Linked DNA regions of Homo sapiens: regions 1, 3 and 4 are each linked to region 2. Evidence: fine-mapped expression QTL. A gene starts in region 2. Each other region holds a variant in brackets. All regions are shown on one strand. Distances are from middle to middle. Region 1 overlaps FAM86B1 (family with sequence similarity 86 member B1 (gene/pseudogene)). Region 2 holds the start of CTSB (cathepsin B). Region 3 has its middle 22 kb from the start of CTSB. Region 4 overlaps LOC105379243 (a long non-coding RNA gene).

The links. PIP is the estimated chance that this variant, and not a neighbour inherited with it, causes the effect.
Region 1: its variant is the best candidate, but not a certain one, in a credible set for the expression of CTSB in prefrontal cortex (GTEx, PIP 0.62).
Region 3: its variant is the best candidate, but not a certain one, in a credible set for the expression of CTSB in lung (TOPMed, PIP 0.55).
Region 4: its variant is the best candidate, but not a certain one, in a credible set for the expression of CTSB in skeletal muscle (FUSION, PIP 0.81).

What each region holds. Positions count from the first base shown.
Region 1 is chr8:12,179,925-12,185,120 of GRCh38, forward strand. FAM86B1 (family with sequence similarity 86 member B1 (gene/pseudogene)) reads right to left here. Exons shown (of 7, transcript NM_001083537.4): 7 at 2,182-3,782. The coding sequence ends at 3,682. It also overlaps the pseudogene ALG1L11P. Among named protein-coding and RNA genes, the nearest start is that of FAM85A, 3.2 kb to the right of the region's middle. RefSeq lists enhancers at 1-503, 504-1,014, 1,154-1,655, 1,656-2,155. The variant G/A (reference allele first, on the strand shown) is at 2,426.
Region 2 is chr8:11,865,441-11,870,636 of GRCh38, forward strand. CTSB (cathepsin B) reads right to left here and starts at 2,647. Exons shown (of 10, transcript NM_001908.5): 1 at 2,561-2,647. RefSeq lists an enhancer at 1,911-2,120 and silencers at 2,211-2,540, 2,681-2,800.
Region 3 is chr8:11,887,171-11,892,366 of GRCh38, forward strand. No RefSeq gene overlaps it. Among named protein-coding and RNA genes, the nearest start is that of CTSB, 22 kb to the left of the region's middle. RefSeq lists a silencer at 3,955-4,138. The variant T/C (reference allele first, on the strand shown) is at 3,189.
Region 4 is chr8:11,791,206-11,796,205 of GRCh38, forward strand. All of the region lies in intron 1 of LOC105379243 (a long non-coding RNA gene), which reads right to left. It also overlaps the pseudogene SUB1P1 and a transcript of FDFT1 not described here. Among named protein-coding and RNA genes, the nearest start is that of FDFT1, 9.0 kb to the right of the region's middle. RefSeq lists an enhancer at 4,035-4,329. The variant C/T (reference allele first, on the strand shown) is at 2,839.

The sequences.
Region 1 (5,196 bases), 310 kb after region 2:
ATTTTTAGTAGAGATGGGGATTCACCATGTTGGCCAGGCTGGTCTTGAACTCCTGACCTCAGGTGATCCACCCGCCTTGGCCTCCCAAAATGCTGGGATTACAGGCGGGAGGTGAACCTGGGAGGTGGAGGTTGCAGGGAGCTGAGATTGTGCCACTGCACTCCAGCCTGGGTGACAGAGTGAGACTCTGTCTCAAAACAAAACAAACAACAACAACAAAAAAACAAATTGTGGTTACGTAGAAAAAGTGTCAACTTACATTTTCAGATGTCCCAGCCAGGCCGTGTGGCTGCTTGGCCAGCTTAAGCCACTTGTGCTTGGGGCTGTCGGGGGCCTTATCCAATTTTCACTCCCCTCGGGGGATGTTGTCTCACTGTGCTGGGAGGATTTGTGTTCCCAGGGCAGAGACCAGCACTCTGACCCACCCCTCTTGCCTAGCAGGGTTGGTGGACCTGGGTGTCTCTCTGGACACATCCTCCAGTGGCCTGGACCTGCCCATGAAGGTGGTGGACATGTTCAGGTGCTGTTTGCCTGCGTGTGCCGTGAACTTCAAGTGGTAGGAGCAGAACCCGAATCTTTCTGGGGATAGCTTCACAGATCCACCGCTGACGGGGAAGCAGTGCAGAGTGAGCTGCCCAAAGTGAGGCCCTGCCCCTTGGTCAGTCCAGCACACACTGGAGGCCACGAGGAGGAGCCCTGCGGTTACTGTGGCTGGGCTGAGCCTCACTGAAGTAGGTGCTTCCATTTAGAGCTCATGCTATATTTAGGTTGGTACAAAAGTAATCACGGTTTTTGCCATTAAAACTGAAAATTACTTTTGCACCAACCCAATATGAAAAAAAAATAAAGCACCTTAAATACTAGAACTCCACTCGGGGCTTTTGCTCCTAGAGTAGAATTGGCGGGAAATGCCTGCAGGCTTACATGGTTTTCTTTGTTTTTCTCTCCCACCATGTCCCTTTTGGCCAAGCTCACATGGTGGGTTTGAATGAGTTAAATGAGTGTCATGCTGTGGCCTCACTCCACCCAGCATAGACGGGTGTTTGGAAGGGTGGCATTAGAGGAGATTCTAGAAGCAGTAGCCCCAGCACAAGTTGAGCCCTTGGCCCCTGCTCAGCAGCCGGCTCCTGGATGGGATTCAGGGATGCGAGCCCCTCGTGTGAGCTGAGCTCAGGGAATGTGGGGATCAAATCTGGTGTCCTAGAAAAGTCATCTTTTATGTGCTGAACCAGTCCCCAGGGGGTTGCCTTTACTTGTTCCATGGCCATGGAATTAAGAAAAACATGCAAAAGTAATTCTTCAGTACTTGAAGAGCATCCAGCACAGAAGGTACAAACCTTCCTTAAGGCTCCCTCCTCAAATCGGTTTGGTCATTTTGATGTGCACCCCCCCAGGCCTTTATACCCTTCAGATGCCAAATCTAAGAACCAGCTCCCAGAAACCACACCCCCTGTTCCAAACCCCAGCCTGGCTTGAGCGTGGGGTGGGTGGGATCCCAGCTGGGCACCCCAGGAGTCTGGTGTCTTCCCCAGGCAGCTCTCAGGCTCCCTTGGTTCTGTCTGCAGTTTACATGAGCTGGTGAAACATGTAGAAAATGGCCTGATCTTTGAGGAGTCAGAGGAACTGGCAGCTCAGCTGCAGGTAGCCATGTCTGCCACCACGCCAGGGTGGGCAGGGTTCTGGAGACTGGCATCGAGCCACGCTCCCTGATCCCTGCTTCCCACAGCCAGGGTGGGACCATGGGGGGTCTGGTGGAAAAGCTAGTGGGGGAGCAGAAGTCACAGAGGCCTCCTACTCTGCTGTCCCATTTCGGTACAGTAGGCTCGGGAAAGTTAGGACACAACCCCACCTGCCCTCTGGATTTATGGAGCTGACACTCCATAAACGATGCTGGAGCCGGGTGGGCCGGGCTGCAGTTTAGGAAGTGATCGGATCAGGTAGGTGCGTGGGCAAAGGGAACTTCTGGGACCAGCCTTGAAAGATGGGTGGAATTCTGCAAAGGTTACTTGTTTCTTATTGCAAAAAGTAATACATCATTCTTGTCAACAGAATGATTGGGAGGATTTTCAGTAAATGTCCAGGTCAGAAGTCATTTAGACAGGGTACCCCAGTCTCTGTCAGAACCATGGTACTCTGTTGTGGTGTGAAAGTAGCCACAGATCATCTGTAGATTAAGGGGTGTGGCTTTGTTCCAACAAAGCTTTATTTACAAACACAGGCTGTGGGCTGGATTTGGCCTGCAGGCTGTAGTTTGTGATCCTTGATTCAGACAGTTTAGCAAGGCTGAAAAGAACACCCACACCCCCTTGTTACCCACAGATGGGTGGGACTGTGTTGGCCAGAGGCCGAGAGGAGGGTGCTCACAGGGGAACGTACAGCATGTAGAGGCCGGAAGGTGCTCCAGGGCACCAAGTGTGGGAAAGTG[G/A]GACATACGGGGAAGTTTCCAGAAAGCATGATGTCAAGTTGGAAGTGGAGCGCTGCTGGGTTGTGAAGGGTCTCAAGTCCAAGTGAGGGGGGTTGTGAAGGGTCTCAAGTCCAAGTGAGGGAGTTAGGGACTTGGGAGGGGTTGTTGTTGGGTCGGGGACCTGGGGTCATCCAAGTGGTGACCTGGGATGGGGTGGGGACAGGCAATGAGTTAAGCTCTGCTCTTTAGCATTTTGCAGATGCTTTTCTCAAACTTTTCTGATCCTGCAGGCAAGCTAAGCCAGTTCTGGAAGAACCTGCAAGAGTCTCAGCAGCTCTGATGGGATGAGAGCTGGGTGCAGACTGTGCTCCCTTTGGTTATGGACACATAACTCCTGGGCCAGAGGCTAAAACCCCAGGGCCCCTGCTGTCCTTCCCGCAGCTTCTTGGAGTCTCAGGGCAAAGCCTTTCGAGCAGCGCCTCCCAGTGGCCAGAAGCTGAAATGACGGCAGTGGTGTCACCTGGTGAATGACCCGGGAAGCTGTGGTTGGCCCTGATTTCTTCTTTGGAGTCTCTGAAATGCTTCCTGTCTTCTGTTCTTCATGCCCCATGCCCCTGCTAGCGTATTACTGTTCTGTGACTTCCCTGTGACCTCTGCAGTACTCCTCATCCTGCATTTGGTCTCCAGGTGTCACCTTTCTGCCGTGTTCCTAACACTTTCATTCCTGTCTTGAAAAAAGCGCCTGCTGCACCATAAGCCCTGGGATGTGGCAGCTGCAGCGGGCTTGGCTTTGTGAGGAACCGAGTGTGTCCAGGGATGTGGCAGCTGCAGCGGGCTTGGCTTTGTGAGGAACCGAGTGTGTCCAGGGATGTGGCAGCTGCAGCGGGCTTGGCTTTGTGAGGAACCGAGTGTGTCCAGGGATGTGGCAGCTGCAGCGGGCTTGGCTTTCTGAGGAACCGAGTGTGTCCACGTTGGGGGAACGTCATCCTTGATACACACGTTTTTATTTGCAGAAAGAAAATGCTATTTTTGGAGCTAGAATTTTCATGTCTGATTTATGATGATTTTCTTGAGAACCAGAACTGCTGGCAGAAAGGGGGCACCCACACGCCTAGACAGCTAATGTCTTATTAGAGGGCAGTTTTGATTCCTGATTTGGAGTTTAATAATCTCCAAACATTCCAGTCCAATGAAAGTTTTATCCACTTTCCCATATAAAAATTCTTCCCACGAGAGTGACTTGATTCTCACAATCCCTTTGGAGTCATGTGTGAGTCCTACAGTGTGAGGTTCAGCATTGCCATCTCCAAGTGCTCTCCATAGGGAAACAGTTTCTGGTCATGATGAGCTTCCGCTTCCCATCTGATCCCATCCCGGCCTGGAAACAAAGCACGTGTTTGAGGATGGCGGTGTTTGGGGACAGGACATGAGCGTTTTGTGTGGGGCTGCTAGGACAGGCCTGGCGGGGTGGGGGGTGTCTAAGTCAGTTTACTTGGTTCACAGGTTCCGAGGCCCACCCACATACCTAGAATTCGCCTCCAGGATGGGACCAGAACTCTGGTTTTGCATAGAAATGGCTAGCAGCAGGCACCATGCCGCTGTCCACTCTGTGCCTGCGTCTGCCCCAGCACTTGGCACAGCAGGACAGAAGCAGAGATCTGAACCCACATCTCCCTGGCTGCTCAGTCAACTCACTCTTCACAAAGCTTAGAAAGTGGCCGGGCACAGCCAGACTCTGTCTCAAAAAAAAAAAAAAGGTTGGTTGAGGCTTATACTATGTGTGCTGCTTGGCACTGTTTTTTTCACTTAAAAGATATTGCAGGTTTTTTTTCACGTAAGTATCTGAAGAAAGACTTCCTTTTTTTTTTTTTTTTTTTTTTTTTTTGCTTTTTTGCTTTTTTGAGACAGGGTCTTGCTCTGTTACCCACGCTGGAGTGCAGTGGTGAGATCAGGGCTCACTGCAGCCTCCACCTCATGGGCTGAAGCCATCCTCCCACCTCAGCCTCCCGAGTAGCTGGGACTACAGGTGTGTGCAACCACATCTGGCTAGTTTCTGTATGTTTTGTGAAGATGGGGTCCCACTATGTGGCCCAAGTTGGTCTTGAACACTTGGGGTCAAGTAGTCCTCCTGCTTTAGCTTCCTAAAGTGCTGGGATGACAGGCCTGAGCCCCGCGCCCGGCCAGCCTCCTGTGCGAGGTTGTGTGGGACTCTGTCATGGAACCCAGTATGCCTTCATGTGCTGGCTTGTTTGTTGACTCTGTAGTTAATGGGCTGCCCCACGTGGACAGGCACTGGGTCATCCATGTCTCTGTGTACAGGCAGAGGCTGCTGCGGGTACATCTGTGCACATGGCTGCCAGGAGGGGCTGTGCTCAGGGGGAGCTGGGGCAGAGGCTGGTGGCAATGGGGGGCTTGGGTGTAGTGTGGAGGCACGAGAGCCAGGTGGCCGGGCTGCAGTCTGCGGGAGCTCGGGGGTCACTTGGCCTCTGTGTGTCCTAGTGTCTTTGTCGGTGAGATGGGACAATGACAGCACACCCTCACAGGTGCTGGGGGTTGACAAATGTCAGGTCTGAGGACAGTGGCTGGCCCACTACGGGGCCAGTTTCCCTTCTCTATAGTCACCCTGCTCGTCTTCCATCAACTGGGTGCTCAGGACAGTGGCGTGGTGGATCCGCCTGTACAGCCTGTGCTCCAGCGTCCTGCAGTCCACAGCTGTGTCCAGCCCTGACCCCGACTGCCGCTCCCGCCACCTCCATTTTATAGATGAGGAAACCGAGGCCCAAGGGCTTAGG
Region 2 (5,196 bases):
TAGCTGAGTGTGGAGGCACATGCCTGTAATCGCAGCTAGTTGAGAGACTGAGGCAGGAGAATGGCTTGAACACAGGAAGCGGAGTTGCAGTGAGCTGAGATCTTGCCACTGCACTCCAGCCTGGGTGAGAGAGTCAGACTCCACCTCAAAAAAAAAAAGGAGAGAGAGAAAAGAAGAATCGACATACCTGTAACTCCTCCCTCTCAATGTTTCAGTCCATATCTCGAAAGGACGGTATGTTACTCTACACAACCACAACTCATTACCAGATTTAAGAAAATTACCCCTCCACCGCGCGGTGGCTCATGCCTGTAATCCTACCACTTTGGGAGGCTGAGGCGGATCACTTGAGATCAGGAGTTCGAAAACCAGCCTGGCTAACATGGTGAAAGCCCGTCTCTACTAAAAATACAAAAAAAAAAAAAAAAGCCAGGTGTGGTGATGGGCACTGGCAATCCCAGCTACTTGGGAGGGAGGCTGAGACAGGAGAATTGCTTCAACATGAGAGGCGGAGGTGGCAGTGAACCGAGATCGCACCACTGCACTCCAGCCTGAGCGATAGAGGGAGTGTGTCTCAAAAAAAAAAAAAAAAGAAAGAAAAAGAAATTAAGAAAGAAAAGAAAATCACTGACAGACATCCCAAGGCACCCCTGAAACGTGACCTCCCTTCAATTCACTTCCCAATCCAACCAAGAGCAACAGAAAATATCTGTTACCCCTAAAATGGGTGCAACTTCTCTTCCAACTCCCAGGTCCAGCAGCTGGGGAAAGAAAAGAACCTGCCTACAAAAAGAGCCTCCCCAGTCTGCTAAATCAGCACCACATGGGCAGTTTCAACCTGGAACCAAAGGGCCACCACCCCTCACCGCCTAACCAGTTGGAAACAGGGCTGTCCTGAGCCAACACCCAGGAGAGCTGTGCCAGGGCCGTGTCTGGCCTGCGTTGCCACCTGGGGAGCAAGGGACCTGTGCCTTTCCACCAGGGGGTACCCCCAGCTAGAGGACAAATGACCAAAGACGAAGGGAAGCCTCTGTTCTCCAGGAGACGTTTGACTCTGTCTTTGGGAAAGCTACACAGGGTGGGCGGCCCAGCCCCTTTCTCCAGGAGCTGGCGGGTTCTAAGTCACCAGCACCAGAGCCAACAAGAAACAGTTCTTGGCCAGGCACCGTGACTCACCGGGAGGCCGAGACAGGCGGATCACCTGAGGTCAGGAGGTCAAGATCTGCCTGGTCAACATGGTGAAACCCCATCTCTACTAAAAATACAAAAATTAGCTGGGCGTGGTGGCGGGCACCTGTAATCCCAGCTACTCGGGAGGCTGAGGCAGGAGAATAGCTTGAATTTGGGAGGCGGAAGTTGTAGTGAGCCGAGATCGCGCCACTGTGCTCCAGCCTGAGAGACAGAGCCAGCCAACGCCCTCTTAGGCCTCTTCGCCTTACGTTCCTGAACGTTTGGATTCAAAGAGAGTGCATCTCAGCTATCCTCTCCTCCGGCAGCAGGCAGTGGGAATGTTTTTCCAGGCTACAAAAAGGTGCCAGGTCTGCATTTGAACCCCACAGCGTCACTTCTCCAGTGGGTTTGGGGGGTCTCTCGTCCGTTAGGAGGAGGAGTGTGGGGCCTGCGCTAGGGTCCTTTTCTTTGCCAGCCTGCTGGCTTTCTCAGCGCCTGGGAAGGGGGTGACAGAGGCCCACCAGGAAGCCAAGTGCAATTCACTTCCACCTGGGTCGCCCACCCCAGCCTGCCTGCAACGCCCCACACCCAGCACCCACTGCTCCCCAGAGGCCAACTCCCCCCGGCCTCCAGGGCTACTAACCGAGGGGGAGGTGGCGCCCCAGGGACTCTGCCCGGCCTCCCTTTACTGGAGTCCAGGAGCAGGGTGCGCCCCCGGCCTTCTCCCCACCGGCATCCAATCGCCCATTCGCCTCTTGGTTTCGCTGTCTGGTTTCTCTTCCTGTTTATGGATTTAACACCGTGCGGCTTCCTCCCCAGCCCACCCAGTGCCAGATTCCTGTTCTTCAACAGGACCTGTCTTCTGGGGTCCCAGGAATTGCGTGGGATCTTGCGCAGAAAGTTGGCCAGGCAAATCCTTCGCAATGAGGGGGAAATAAACCGAAAATAGATGCCGGCAGATGCGATTATGTCGGCAGTTTGGCCCGGAGACACCGAGGCCCAGGCGCTGGGAGCGCGGTCCCAGGCAGCAGTCTCCGGACCCGGCCGAGCTCTTCCTCGCAGGCGCCTCCCTCGGCGGTCCTGGCCGCGTCCCCGCTCCGAGGGCCGGGGTCCGGCGCACAGCCCGGGGAGGGGAGCGGAGGGCAGAGGGCTGGCGGGCGGAGCTGTTTTCTGCTTTTCTCGCCGACGCTTCGGAGCGCGCGGACTCCCACCCCAGCCCGCCCGTCAGGGACAGTCCCGAGGGTCCCGGCTCCCCGCCGGCCCCCAGGGACGCCGCGGGGCCGCGCCTGGGCCCGACTGAGGGCGCAGAGGAACCCGTCTCGGCGGCCGGGTAGCACCGTCCCCGCCAAGGTCACTTACGCTGCGGTGGCCCCGGGTCCCCAGCACTCACCCAGCGCTGCAGCCGAGAGCCTGCAGCCCAGCCTGCGCGCAGCGGAGCGGTTGGCGTTGCCGGAGCGGTTGCCGGAGCCCTGCAGCCGCCGTAGCCTGGGCCAGCCCCGGCCCTAAGTACCCTCCCGGCCCCGCCCCACGTGACCACCGCGCAGCCCCGCCCGGGCCCTCCCGCCGCCCGCGCACGGTGCTTCCCAGCCCCCACCCCCTCCCGCCACCTTCCGCCGCCCGCGCTCCCCGCTTCCCGGCCCCGCACACCCCCCGCCCCCTTCCGCTCGGGGTCCGGGGCCACCGCCGGGGGCGGGCGGGGGCCTGAGCGCGCGGGCTGGGGAAGAAGGGCTTGGAGCCCTGCGGGCCCTGGGTGGCGAAACGCTGCGAATTGGGGCCAGGGGATGGGGAAAAAGCCCCTAAAGGTGGTCCCAAGGCCCCCACCCCGCCTAGAAAAGTCCCCCCGCCTCGCGGGACCGCCTCCGCCAGAACCCGCGCCTGGGATCCCTGCCTGCCGAGTTGGCGGGGGTGGGGTGGTGGAGAGGGCGCCGTCGCTTATTTCATTCATTCAGAAGCCGCTGCAGAGGCTGGGGGTGGCGAGGCTGTGGACCCCACAGAACAGCCTTTAGAAGGGCCACTTTGTTGTTCAGAGAACGTACCCACAAAACACTACAGCTACGTACAAATAGAAAAGAGTGGCTGTCACTGCGAAGGAACCTAGGAGCTGCGTCAGGATTTCTAAGAGGAGAAGGACCTTGGGGGCGGAAATCGGTTTGGCACAGGAGTACCCGGAGACCTGCTCCGAGAGGACGGACAAAGTGCACATTTACTTGGGGTTTATTACCGGGAGGCCCTGGAAGGGAGATGCAGGGGTTGGCTCAAGACTCACCCTCCTCCAGACACTCCCCAAACAGCTTTAATCCTTAAGACAAACCTGCAAAGCAGGCATGACCCCAGTTGTATTCAAGAGGCTCAGAGGGGCTGGGTTCGGTGGCTCACGCCTGTAATCCCAGCATTTTGGGAGGCCGAGGCCGGTGAGTCACCTGAGGTCGGGAGTTCGAGACCATCCTGACCAACATGGAGAAACCCCGTCTCTACTAAAAATACAAAACTAGCCGGGCGTGGTGGCGCGTGTCAGTAATCCCAGCTACTCGGGAGACTGAAGCAGGAGAATCGCTTGAACCCGGGAGGCGGAGGTTGCGGTGACCAGAGATCGCACTATTGCACTCCAGCCTAGGCAACAAGAGTGAAACTCTGTATTAAAAAAAAAAAAAAGGCTCAGAAGAATCGTATTTTATCCAGGCTGTGGCGACAGTAAGAAGGCAGTAGCCGGGTGCAGTGGCTCACGCCTGTAATCCCAGCACTTTGGGAGGCCGAGGCGGGCGGATCACGAGGTCAGGAGATCAAGATTATCCTGGCTAACACGGTGAAACCCCGTCTCTAGTAAAAATACAAAAAATTAGCCGGGCGTGGTGGCGGGCGCCTGTAGTCCCAGCTACTCGGGAGGCGGAGGCAGGAGAATGGCGTGAACCCGTGAGCTGAGATCGTGCCACTGCACTCCAGCCTGGGCGAAAAGCGAGACTCCGCCTCAAAAAAAAAAAAAAAAAAAAAAAAAAAGGCAGTAGGACTGCATGGGACCTGGTTCCCTGCAGCCTGGTCGTCAGCTGTCACACAGCCCTGAGCCTGTCTTCAGAGACATGCCTGTACTCCCGCCTGGTTAGTAACAAACTAAGGATAGGAGTGGAAGGAAAAAATAATCTCTGGAGCCCAAACATGGTCACTAAGCCCCCAGCAGAGTGGGATACCCGAGGAACTGAGGACCAGGAGGCTGGAGGTCAAGGTGGTCCCAACTGCCTGCTCACCCTAGTCATATCCTGACAGCCATGGACTCTGGACTCCAAATCATTTCAGACCTCTATAAGGAGCTCATAAGATGGCCAAAATGGGGAGGACACAGCCAGAACCAGGATAACTCTCCCCTCTCTCATCCTTAGAGTGTGACAGAAGGTATGCAGAGCAGAGTGCTTGACATGCGTTATGGCTATTTGATGGAATTTTCCATCAGTGTCATTATAGAAATCACTTTTGAGAGGTAAAAATCACTTTTGAAACAAAAGAAACAGGCTAGGCGCGGTGGTTCACCACTGTAATCCTAGCACTTTGGGAGGCTGAGGCAGGCAGATCACCTGAGGTCGGGAGTTCCAGACCAGCCTGGCCCAAATGGTGAAACCCAGTCTCTACTAAAAATACAAAAATTAGCTGGGCGTGGTGGTTCACGCGCCTGTAATCCCAGCTACTTGAGAGGCTGAGGCAGGAGAATCGCTTGAGCCCGGGAGGTGGAGGTTGCGGTGAGCCAAAATCACGCCATTGCACTCCAACCCGGGCAAGATTCCATCTCAAAAGAAAAGAAAAGAAAAAAAGAAATAGGCCAGGCGCAGTGGCTCACGCCTGTAATCCCAGCACTTTGGGAGGCCAAGGCAGGCGGATCACGACGTTGGAAGTTCAAGACCAGCCTGGCCAACATGGTGAAACCCCGTCTCTACTAAAAATACAAAAATTAGCTGGGTGTGGCATTGCGGGCCTGTAATCCCAGCTACTCGAGCGCTGAGGCAGGAGGATCCCTTGAACCAGGGAGTCAGAGGTTGTAGT
Region 3 (5,196 bases), 22 kb after region 2:
TTCGCTAGAAGCAGAAATCCGTATTTTTGGATGAAGCTTCCTGCTTTTTAAATGTTGGCTCAAATGAAAGACAAAACAGGAATCCAGGCTAGGGGAGAGGGTGACTTGGAGCAGGGGGCTTGCAGGGAGGTGTGAGAAGTGAGAATATTCTGAAGGCAGAGATTTCCTCATGGGTTGGGTGTGGGCTATGAGAGAAAAAGACAGAAAAAGAGGAAGCAGGATGATTCCAAGTTGTTTTTTTTTTTTTGAGACGGAGTCTCGCTCTGTCGCCCAGGCTGGAGTGCAGTGGCGTGATCTTGGCTCACCGGAAGCTCCACCTCCCGGGTTCACGTCATTCTCCTGCCTCAGCCTCCCGAGTAGCTGGGACTACAGGCGCCCGCAACCACACCCGGCTAATTTTTTGTACTTTTCGTAGAAATGGGGTTTCACCGTGTTAGCCAGGATGGTCTCGATCTCCTGATCTCGTGATCCACCAGCCTCAGCCTCCCAAAGTGCTGGGATTACAGGCATGACCCAATGCGCCCAGCTTCTTTTTTTTTTTTTTTTGGCTGAGCCTCTGGGCTCCTCCTAATGACCCCCTGCGTCCTGCTTTCTCCCTCACGCCTGGCATGTCAGTCTCAACGCAGCGCCCGAGGGCTTCTTTAAAACCCAAGTCAAATCATACACTCCTCTGCTCAAAGGCCACCAATCGCGCCCACACCATCAAAGTAAAAGCCCAGGCCCAGGAAGTAGAATGGGGGCTGTCAAGAGCTGGGGAAGGGGGAGCTAGTGTTTAATAGGTGTAGCGTTTCAGCTGGGGGATGAGAAAGTTCTGGAGATGGATGGTGGAGATGGTTGTGCAACAATGGGAATGCTATAAACGTGGGTGGGGAAGACTTCAGAGGAGGAAGTTTTATGGGGGAGAGCAGGAGCTCAGTTTGGGGCATGTCAAGAATGAGATGCCTTATTAAACATTCGAGCCAAGACACTGAACAGAGCTGAGTCTGGAGTTCACAGAGAGCCAAGCTGGGGACATGGATTTGCAATCAATCAGTGCACAGATGGCATCAGTTCCACGGGACTGAGAGTTCACCAGCGTAGCGAGAACAGCCAAAACCAAACCAAACCAAAACGTTCTCCACAGGTCCCAGGAGTGAGCCAGAGACTTTAAGCTGAAAGGTCAGCCATCCAAGGAGGGATCAGGAAGGGGAAGAGGAGGAACAGCAACGAGGGAGGGAGGACCGCCGGAAGGGTGAGCGCTATGCTCGTGGGCTCGGGCGGAGTGGCACCTCGGGAGCTTCCTACTATCAGGGTTTGTGCCTGCACGAATCTGTCTACAGCCACTGCTAAATCTGAGGGCCATTGGGAGGCAGTTCAGGGTTTGGAGTTGTGTGAGGAGACAAGGTTAGGGATGGGAATTGAGGAGCAGTGCAGGAGGGCCGGGCGTGTAGGGAGGTGCCCCATTGAAGGGAGTGGGAGTGTGTGGGTTGGGGAGCAGCTGTTCAGAGGGGTCCACTGTGGCCCCCAGACTCTGGGCTGATCCCCAGAGTAAAGAAGATGGACATATCCTCTAGGGACCTGCACTGTCCCCTCACACCCCCATAAGAATGGTCTGGGGCTGCTGATAGAAGGCTCCTCAGTCAACTGACTTGGGGACTGACAGGGTCTGATGGTGAGAGGCAAGGACAGGAAGGCCTGCAAAAACGAGGCCTGGTCTGTGGTATGGTCTAAATAGTGACTTCCCTCAAAGTCACACAGTGACGTCCTAAGCCCAACTACCTTAGAATGTGACTATATTTGGAGATAAGGTTTTGATTTTTGTTTTGTTTTAGAGACAGGATCTTGCTGTGTTGCCCAGGCTGGAGTGCAGTGGCATGATCATAGCTCACTGTAGCCTCTTCTACCTGGCTGAAGCGATCCTCCTGCCTCAGCCTCCTGAGTAGCTGGGACTACAGGCATGCGCCACCACACCCAGCTGTTTTTTTAAACAGTTTGTAGAGACAGAGCCTCACTATGTTGCCCTGCTGGTCTCAAACTCCTGGGCTCCAGCAATCTTTTCGCTCCCACCTCCCAAAGTGCTGGGATTACATTGTGAGCCACCACACCCAGTCTTTGGAGACACGGTCTTTAAAGAGGTAGTTAAGTTAAACGAGGCTGTTAGGGTGGGCTCTAATTCAATCTGATTGGTGTCCTTATAGGAGGAGGGAGAGACATGAAGGCTGCACATACACAGAAAAAAAAAAAAACCCAACAACATGTGGGGACACGGAGAAGGCATAGCCTGAGGAGAAACCAGCCATGCCAACACCTTGATCTCAGACTTCTAACCTCCAAAACTGTGAGAAAACGAACGCCTATTGTTAAGTTGCCCAGCCTGTGGTATTTTGTTACGGAAGCCTGAGCAAACTAACACAGCCTGGCATTTTTGCTCTGAAGTTTACAGGATTGATTGGAATTTATGGGAATAGATTTATAGTTGCACAACTCAATGCTATGCAGGGATTTTCTCCAGCGTGATTCCTTTGGTGAAACAGTGGCCCCCACTTCCTACTGTCTGCCCAAACCCAAGCCAGCGAAAGTGTCCATTCACCCATCCATTCAGTCATTTACTCATTCATTCAACAAATATTTATTGAAGACTTACTGTAAAGGTCTTATAAAAGGTGATGGAACCTTGTCCATATCAGGGTTAGACATGGCTAAGTTCTGGGGAATTAGAACATATTATTAATCTCCATAACAAATACAGCTTTTGATGACACACAGAAACGAATGAAATCGGACACAAAGTCCCAATCAGTTTTTGGAAATAATCCACAAAATAAATGGAAGTTTCAGTTCCATAAACAACTAAATTGGATCCAGATATCAGATAATTCCACATTATATTGAAAAAGAAGAAATCGGGCCAGGCATCAGCATGTTGGGAGGCTGAGGTGGGCAGATCACTTGAGGTCAGGAGTTCAAGACCAGCCTGGCCAACATGGTGAAACCTTGTCTCTACTAAAAATACAAAAATCAGCCAGGTGTGCTGGCACATGCCTGTAATCCCAGCTACTCAGGAGGCTGAGGCATGAGAATTGCTTGAACCTGGATGGCAGAGGTTGCAGTGGGCCGATTGTGCCACTGCACATGGTTTGGCTGTGTCTCCACCCAAATCTCATCTTGAATTGTAACTGCAAGAATTCCCATGTGTCGTGGGAGGAACC[T/C]GGTGGGCAGTGATTGAATAATGGGGGCAGGTCTGTCCTGCACTGTTCTTGAGATGGTGAATGAGTCTCATGAAGTCTGGTGGCTTTAGAAATGGGAGTTTCCCTGCACAAATTCTCTCTTCGCTTGTTTGCCCCCATGTGAGATGTGACTTTCACATTCCACCATGATTGTGAGGCCTCTCCAGCCATGTGGAACTTTAAGTCCAATAAACCTCTTTCTTTTGTAAATTGCCCAGTCTCTGATATGTCTTTATCAGCAGCATAAAAATGGACTAATACCATCTTGTATACTGTTTGGTTAATAAATGCCCTTCTGGGAGACAGGCCTCACAACATCCACAAAAGCTGGGCTGCTTTCTGGGGCAGAAAGAGCTTAATGAAGATTAATATCTTTGTGTTGAGTGAACTCTGAGATGGCTCCCTGTGGTCCCTGACTCCTGGTGTTCTCACCCTTGTGTAATGTCCCCAATTGTGTGCAGGCAGGACCTTCGATTTGGTTTTAACAAACAGAGAAGAGCAAAGATGATAGGATGTCACCTCTGTAAATATAAGATGACGACTTGTGTCTTGGTGGCAGACTCTCTCCTTTATAAGCTTTCATAAAGCAAGTTGCTTGATTGGGGAGGCCCACAAGGCAAGAAACACAGGGTGCCTTCTGGGAAAAAACACCTAGGAATCAAGGCCCTTTGTTCAACTGCCTAAAAGCAATTGAGTCATGTCAACGACCAAAAAGTGAGCTTGGAAGCAGATTCTCCCCAGTTGGGCCTTTCGATAAGACTCAACCTTGCCTGACACCTTGAGTGTGGTCTTGTGAGAGACCATAAAATGGAGGAACCAGCTGAGCTGTGTCCAGATTCCTGACCTACAGAAACTGTGAGAAAACGTGTGTGTGTGTGTGTGTGTGTGTGTGTGTGTGTGTGTGTGTGAGCCAGAATCTTGCTTTGTCACCCAGGCTGGAATGCAGTGGCATGATCATAGCTCACTGCATCCTTGAACTCCTGGGCTCAAGTGATCCTCCTGCCTTAGCCTTCTGAGTAGCTAGGATGGCAGGCACACATCACCATGACCAGCTAATTTAACAACTTTTATTTTTTGGTAGAGATGGTATCTCACTATGTTGCTGAGGCTGGTCTCAAACTGCTGGGCTCAAGTGATCCTCATACCTCAGCCTCCCAAAGTATTGGGATTACAAGTGTAAGCCACTTCACCCTGCCGATGTGTGTTGTTTTAGGTGCCAAATTTATGCTCCTTTGTCACTCAGCAGTAAATAGCTAAGACAATCCTAAACAAGGTTTTTGAGATGGTAGAATAAAGACTCTCTGGGGTCCAATTAGTATTGGCCTGAGGCAGATTCCCTGAACAGAAAAGGAAGTGACCAGTAAATCTGAGTCATCTGGGATGAGGCCCCTTGTTACTAAACCCTCAGATTCCTTCCTGATGAAATGAGAAGTTTGGATAGCTCTCCAAGATCCCCTCCCCTCCCCTCTCCTCTCCTCCCCTCCCCTCCTCTCCTCTCCTCTGTATTTTATTTTCTTTTGAGACAGAGTCTCACACTGTTGCCTAGACTGGAGTGCAATGGCGAGATCTCAGTTCACTGCAACCTCCACCTCCTGGGTTCATGCAATTCTCCTGCCTCATCCTCTCGAGTAGCTGTGGTTATAGGCGCACACTACCACACTCGGCTAATTTTTTTTTTTTTTGTAGTTTTAGTAGAAATGGGGTTTCACTATGTTGGCCATACTGGTCTCAAATTCCTGACCTCGTGATCAGCCCTCCTCGGCCTCCCAAAGTGCTGGGATTACAGGCATGAGCCACCGCGCCCAGCCTTTGTTTGCTTTTCTCTCTTTTTTCTTTTTTGAGACGAACTCTTGCTCTGTCGCCCAGGCTGTGGAGTGCAGTGGAGCAACCTTGGCTCACTGCAACCTTTGCCTCCCAGGTTCAGGTGATTCTCCTCCCTCAGCCTCCCAAGTAGCTGGGACCACAGGAGGGGACACGCCACCGCACCAGG
Region 4 (5,000 bases), 74 kb before region 2:
TACTGTCGGTAGGTAATATGGTTAGTTTGTAGGGAAAAGAGCGTATGAGCACATGCTTGTGTATTTCGGCCTTTGCCCCAGTAGATCAGACAATGACATTCTAGTCTTGATGTTACTAAGTTTTAGCAGACACTAGCAAGTGGTTTGTATTTAACCACAGCCATGAAGCAGACAGACTGAGGCACAGATTTTAGTGGCTTTGTGGCAATAAATAGGGCATGGTGTGCCTTAGGAAAAGAATGTTTATAAAGGGAACTATAACTGAAATTAAAGGAGGCGGCAGTGAAGAGGAAATAATTATCTTCTATCTAAATGATATACATATGATATTTTGAGATTTTTATAACTGCAGTGGAACACAATTCTGGGTAGAGTAGAAAAAGGAAAGGTTTAAAGACATATAAAAGATTCTTGTTGACAATTTATTTTTGGTAGCAAATCTCAAATGATTACCTGCTATTAAGGGCTGCCATATCAGAGTTTTGCACTATTTTGCTACCAAGTTTGATTCGTACATCTAAAACATTTTGTAGTTGATTGTCAAGGACTTAATTTGAAAATCATTTGCCAGGCCACATAGTTATCAATTTTCTTTCTAGCAGCTATTCTGTTGTATTTTTAAAACATTTTTTAGATGACTTTTTAAAGTCTATTTAGCAGTAACCTTAAGAGGTGCATATTAGTAAAATAAATCTCTTCTTGTCATTTAGCCTTCATCAAATAATAGGTACCAATGTATTAAAAATATGTGGTTTTTTTTTTTTTGGCAGCCCTTTGAACCAGAGTAGGTTCAGAGAAACTCCCAAAATTTGTATTTTAGACACGTCATGCTTGATTGGTAACTTCCCTCCTTTTTTGGGGAACATGTTTGTGTCCTATTAACTTAATTGGATAGATTTTTAAGTATTTCTTATTTTTGGCACACAGGATGGTTAGAATACAGAACTTTGATTTTTGGTGTAGATACGGAGAGAATGATGGGTAAATTTCCTAGGTTTATATGAATTTAGGGGGTGTACGCATTTTGAAACGCTATTAACAGATGGTGCTGAAATCTATTGCCTACATGTTTTCTAGCTCTTTAGCATTATGTTAATGAAGCCTCCATATAAGGAGTGTTTCTCTGGCACAGTTGGTAAGTTGACTGCTAACTTCATTGAAATGTGTTACTGGATATGCAGTATACTGAAATTATTGATCTTTTTTGTGTATAGGAAAAGAGAAGTGGGTTAAAAGAAGCAAATTAACTTGTTCTGAAAAGAAAGTATAGATTAATTTTGTTTTCTGTTTAAATTTTATCTCCTTGGTAAGACTTTTTTTCCAAGGCAGAAAGCTTGGCATTTTTAGGCATAGATCCCTTACCTTATAATGTCAAAATGAATTTAATTCCAGTACTCAGGTTTTTCCCTTTAACAGACTCTATGTGTATCAGGGCTTTCTAATGGGTTTTTCCTCTTTGTTTTTAAAATGTGAGCAGCTTTTGACCAATTTCCAGTGCTCTTAGCATTTTACTTAAAGAACAACCACTAAAAAAGAAAAACTTCGTAATTTGCTTGTCTTTTGCTTTGCTTTATTAATGTCTAAGAACTTAAGAATACTCCTACCTCATTAGCTACTCAAGATGCTGTGACGACCAAATCTATTCTACATAATGTGTTTAGAAACAAAGACTTGGGTGAAAAATGAAATAAGTATATTCTGACTTGGCTATTGAGGGTAAAAAGAAAGAATTAAGTATTAAGTGTTCCTTGTAGGAGATATGTTAGTAGAATACCATAAAAGTTTGAAAATTTTAAAAAGTACTAATATTTAGGTATCCTGAAATTATTTGCAGTTCATTTTTTATGGAAATTAATCCAGTGAATCACGCAAAAGTTTTTTTTTTAAATGGTGTTTTTCCAGATCAACTCTAGGGTAAACATTCACATAATCACAAATATGCAATTCTGTAATTGTGAAATGCCTGTATGTTTTGTTTTCATACATCTTCCTTGGAGATGTCTGAATATAATACTCCATCTATGAATATTTTAAATGTTGAAATAAAAGTAAGAAATGTGAAAAAAAAAAATGAAGGCTAGGGAGGAGAGCAAAGGATGAATATAACGTGAAAATGTATGTATAGTTAGTTCAGGGGAGAAAACCAGGAGAGAGAGAGAGAAAGCTCACACCAGAGCTGTCGCTTAAAGATGACTGGACTAGGGTGGGAAGAGAAAGAATAACAAGTCCCTAGAAAATTTGCTAAAAGTGAGGCCTTTGGGGTACAGAAGAGTGGGCAGGTTTGTAACGGCTGTAAGGGAAACGTGATCACTTCGGGTTAGAGGGAAGGGCTGTAGAGCCACATGGCAAGCCCAGGACACCTGTGCATTTCCTGACTTTCCCTGACAGCATCCAGTGGCTTAGGATAAAAAATGGAGACATTGGATGTTGGATTACCCCACAATGGACATGGACGTTTGTCAGGGTAAGGATGGTGGGAGACCTAAGGGACAAGGAGAAACATTATTTTTTTAAAATTACAGACGTCAAAAGAGTCACACAATACAAAGTTTATAGAGTGAAACATGAAAGAATGACCTTCATCCCTGCCTTAGGAGGATCTCTGGAGCAGCTTTGCTCATAGTGTCTCTGACTGCAGTGACTTACGGAAAAAACTAATAATTGGGAAAATACTAGTACCTAACAGTTGAGACTAAGTGTTGTGGTTGGTGCCGTTGGAACTCCATGGAACATGTTCCTCATGGAAGAGGTGGGGAAGGGGGAATGTGGGCAGGTAACAACCCACACTCCCATGCTTCTCTCCCAGTGAGTGAGATCTAATTCACCCTGGCAGTAGGT[C/T]CTCAGTGGGTTTCAGGTTGGTTCCAAAAGGAGGTAGGGCCTGGTGCAGTGGCTCACGCCTGTAATCCCAGCACTTTGGGAGGCTGAGGCAGGAGGATTGCTTGACCCCGGGAGTTCGAGACCAGCCTGGGCAACATAGCGAGACCCCATCTCTACAAAAAATACAAAAATTAGCCAGGCATGGTGATGCATACCTGTAGTCCCAGCTACTAGGGAGGTTGAGGTGGAAGGATCACTTGAGCCCAGGAGGTCAAGGCTGCAGTGAGCCGAGATGATGTCACTGTACTCCAGTCTGGGTGACAGAGTAAGACCTTGTCTCAAAAATAAAAAAATAAAAATTTTAAATAAATACATAAAAGGAGGTAGGCACGATATGTTGTAAGTGGACTGAAAGAGAGGAGATGGTACAGAGACAGCAGGGTGGAGTGTGACCAGTGGCGGTTATGCCTTTTGTGCCTGTGCCTGTTGCCTGGAAGGAGGAGAGGTTTTCGCTTGACAGGACTGTGAAGGAGGGCACGGAAATATGGGGGGTCGGGGGTGAATCTAGGCTTCCATCTTAGTAAGGAGAGGCGGGATACGTGTGAGAGGCGGCAGCATGCTGGCAGCCCTGCAGCCCTTGCTCGCTCTCGGTGCCTCCTCGGCCTCGGCGCCCATTCTGGCCGCGCTTGAGGAGCCCTTCAGCCCACCGCTGCACCGTGGGAGCCCTTCTCTGGGCTGGCCTAGTCCGGAGCCGGCTCCCTCGGCTTGCGGGGAGGTGTGGAGTGAGAGGCACTGGCGGGAACCAGGGCTGCGCGCGGCGCTTGCGGGCCAGCGCAAGTTCCGGGTGGGCGTGGGCTCGGCGGGCCGCACTTGGAGCGGGCGGCCGGCCCCGCCGGCCAGGGCAGTGAGGGGCTTAGCACCTGGGCCAGCAGCCGCCGTGCTTGATTTCTCAACAGGCCTTAGCTGCCTCCCCGCGGGGCAGGGCTCGGGACCTGCAGCCCGCCATGCCTGAGCCTCCCCCGCGCCGCCGCCGTGGGCTCCTGCGCGGCCCAAGCCTCCCCGACGAGCGCCACCCCCTGTTCCACGGCGCCCAGTCCCGTCGACCGCCCAAGAGCTGAGGAGTGCGGGCGGATGGCACGGGAGTGGCAGGCAGCTCCACCTGCGGCCCTGCGCGGGATCCACTGGGTGAAGCCAGCTGGGCTCCTGAGTCTGGTGGGGACTTGGAGAATATTTATGTCTAGCTAAGGGATTGTAAATACACCAATCAGCACTCTGTATCTAGCTCAAGGTTTGTAAACACACCAATCAGCACCCTGTGTCTAGCTCAGAGTTTGTAAATACACCAATGGACACTCTGTATCTAGCTAATCTAGTGGGGAGGTGGAGACCTTTTATGTCTAGCTCAGGGATTGTAACCGCACCAATCAGCACCCTGTCAAAACGGACAAATCAGCTCTCTGTAAAACAGACCAATCGGCTTTCTGTAAAATGGACCAATCAGCAGGGTGTGGGTGGGGCCAGATAAGAGCATAAAAGCGGGCTGCCTTAAAAAAAACGGTGGCAACACGCTGGGTTTGCTTTACAACGCTTGGGAAGCTTTGTTGTTTGCAATAAATTTTAATACTTGTCTGTTTCGGTCTGCACTGCCTTTATGAGCTGTAACACTCACAGGGTAGGTTTGCAGCTTCACTCCTGAAGCCAGTAAGACAACGAACCCACTGGGAGAAACAAACAACTCCAGACGCGCCGACTTAAGAGCTGTAATACTCGCTGTGACGGTCTGCAGCTTCACTCCTGAGCCAGCGAGACCACGAACCCACCAGAAGGAAGAAACTCCGAACACATCTGAACATCAGAAGGAACAGACTCCGGACACGCCGCCTTTAAGAACTGTAACACTCACCGCGAGGGTGGGCGGTTTCATTCCTGAAGTCAGTGAGACCAAGAACCAACCAATTCCGGACACACTTGGACTCGACAGACTCTAAGGTGAAAGATTGGTTTAGTTCATGAGTTGGGGTTTTGTGATAACTGACATTGTGAAAAACGGGGGATTTAACATAGATTTTCACAGTGGCTTTAGACATTTCATAAATATTTCTTAAATGCCTCCTAAATGCTAGGATTTGGCAATACAAGGCTAAACAAAATACAAAGCCAAATCCTACTGTAATGGGAGTATG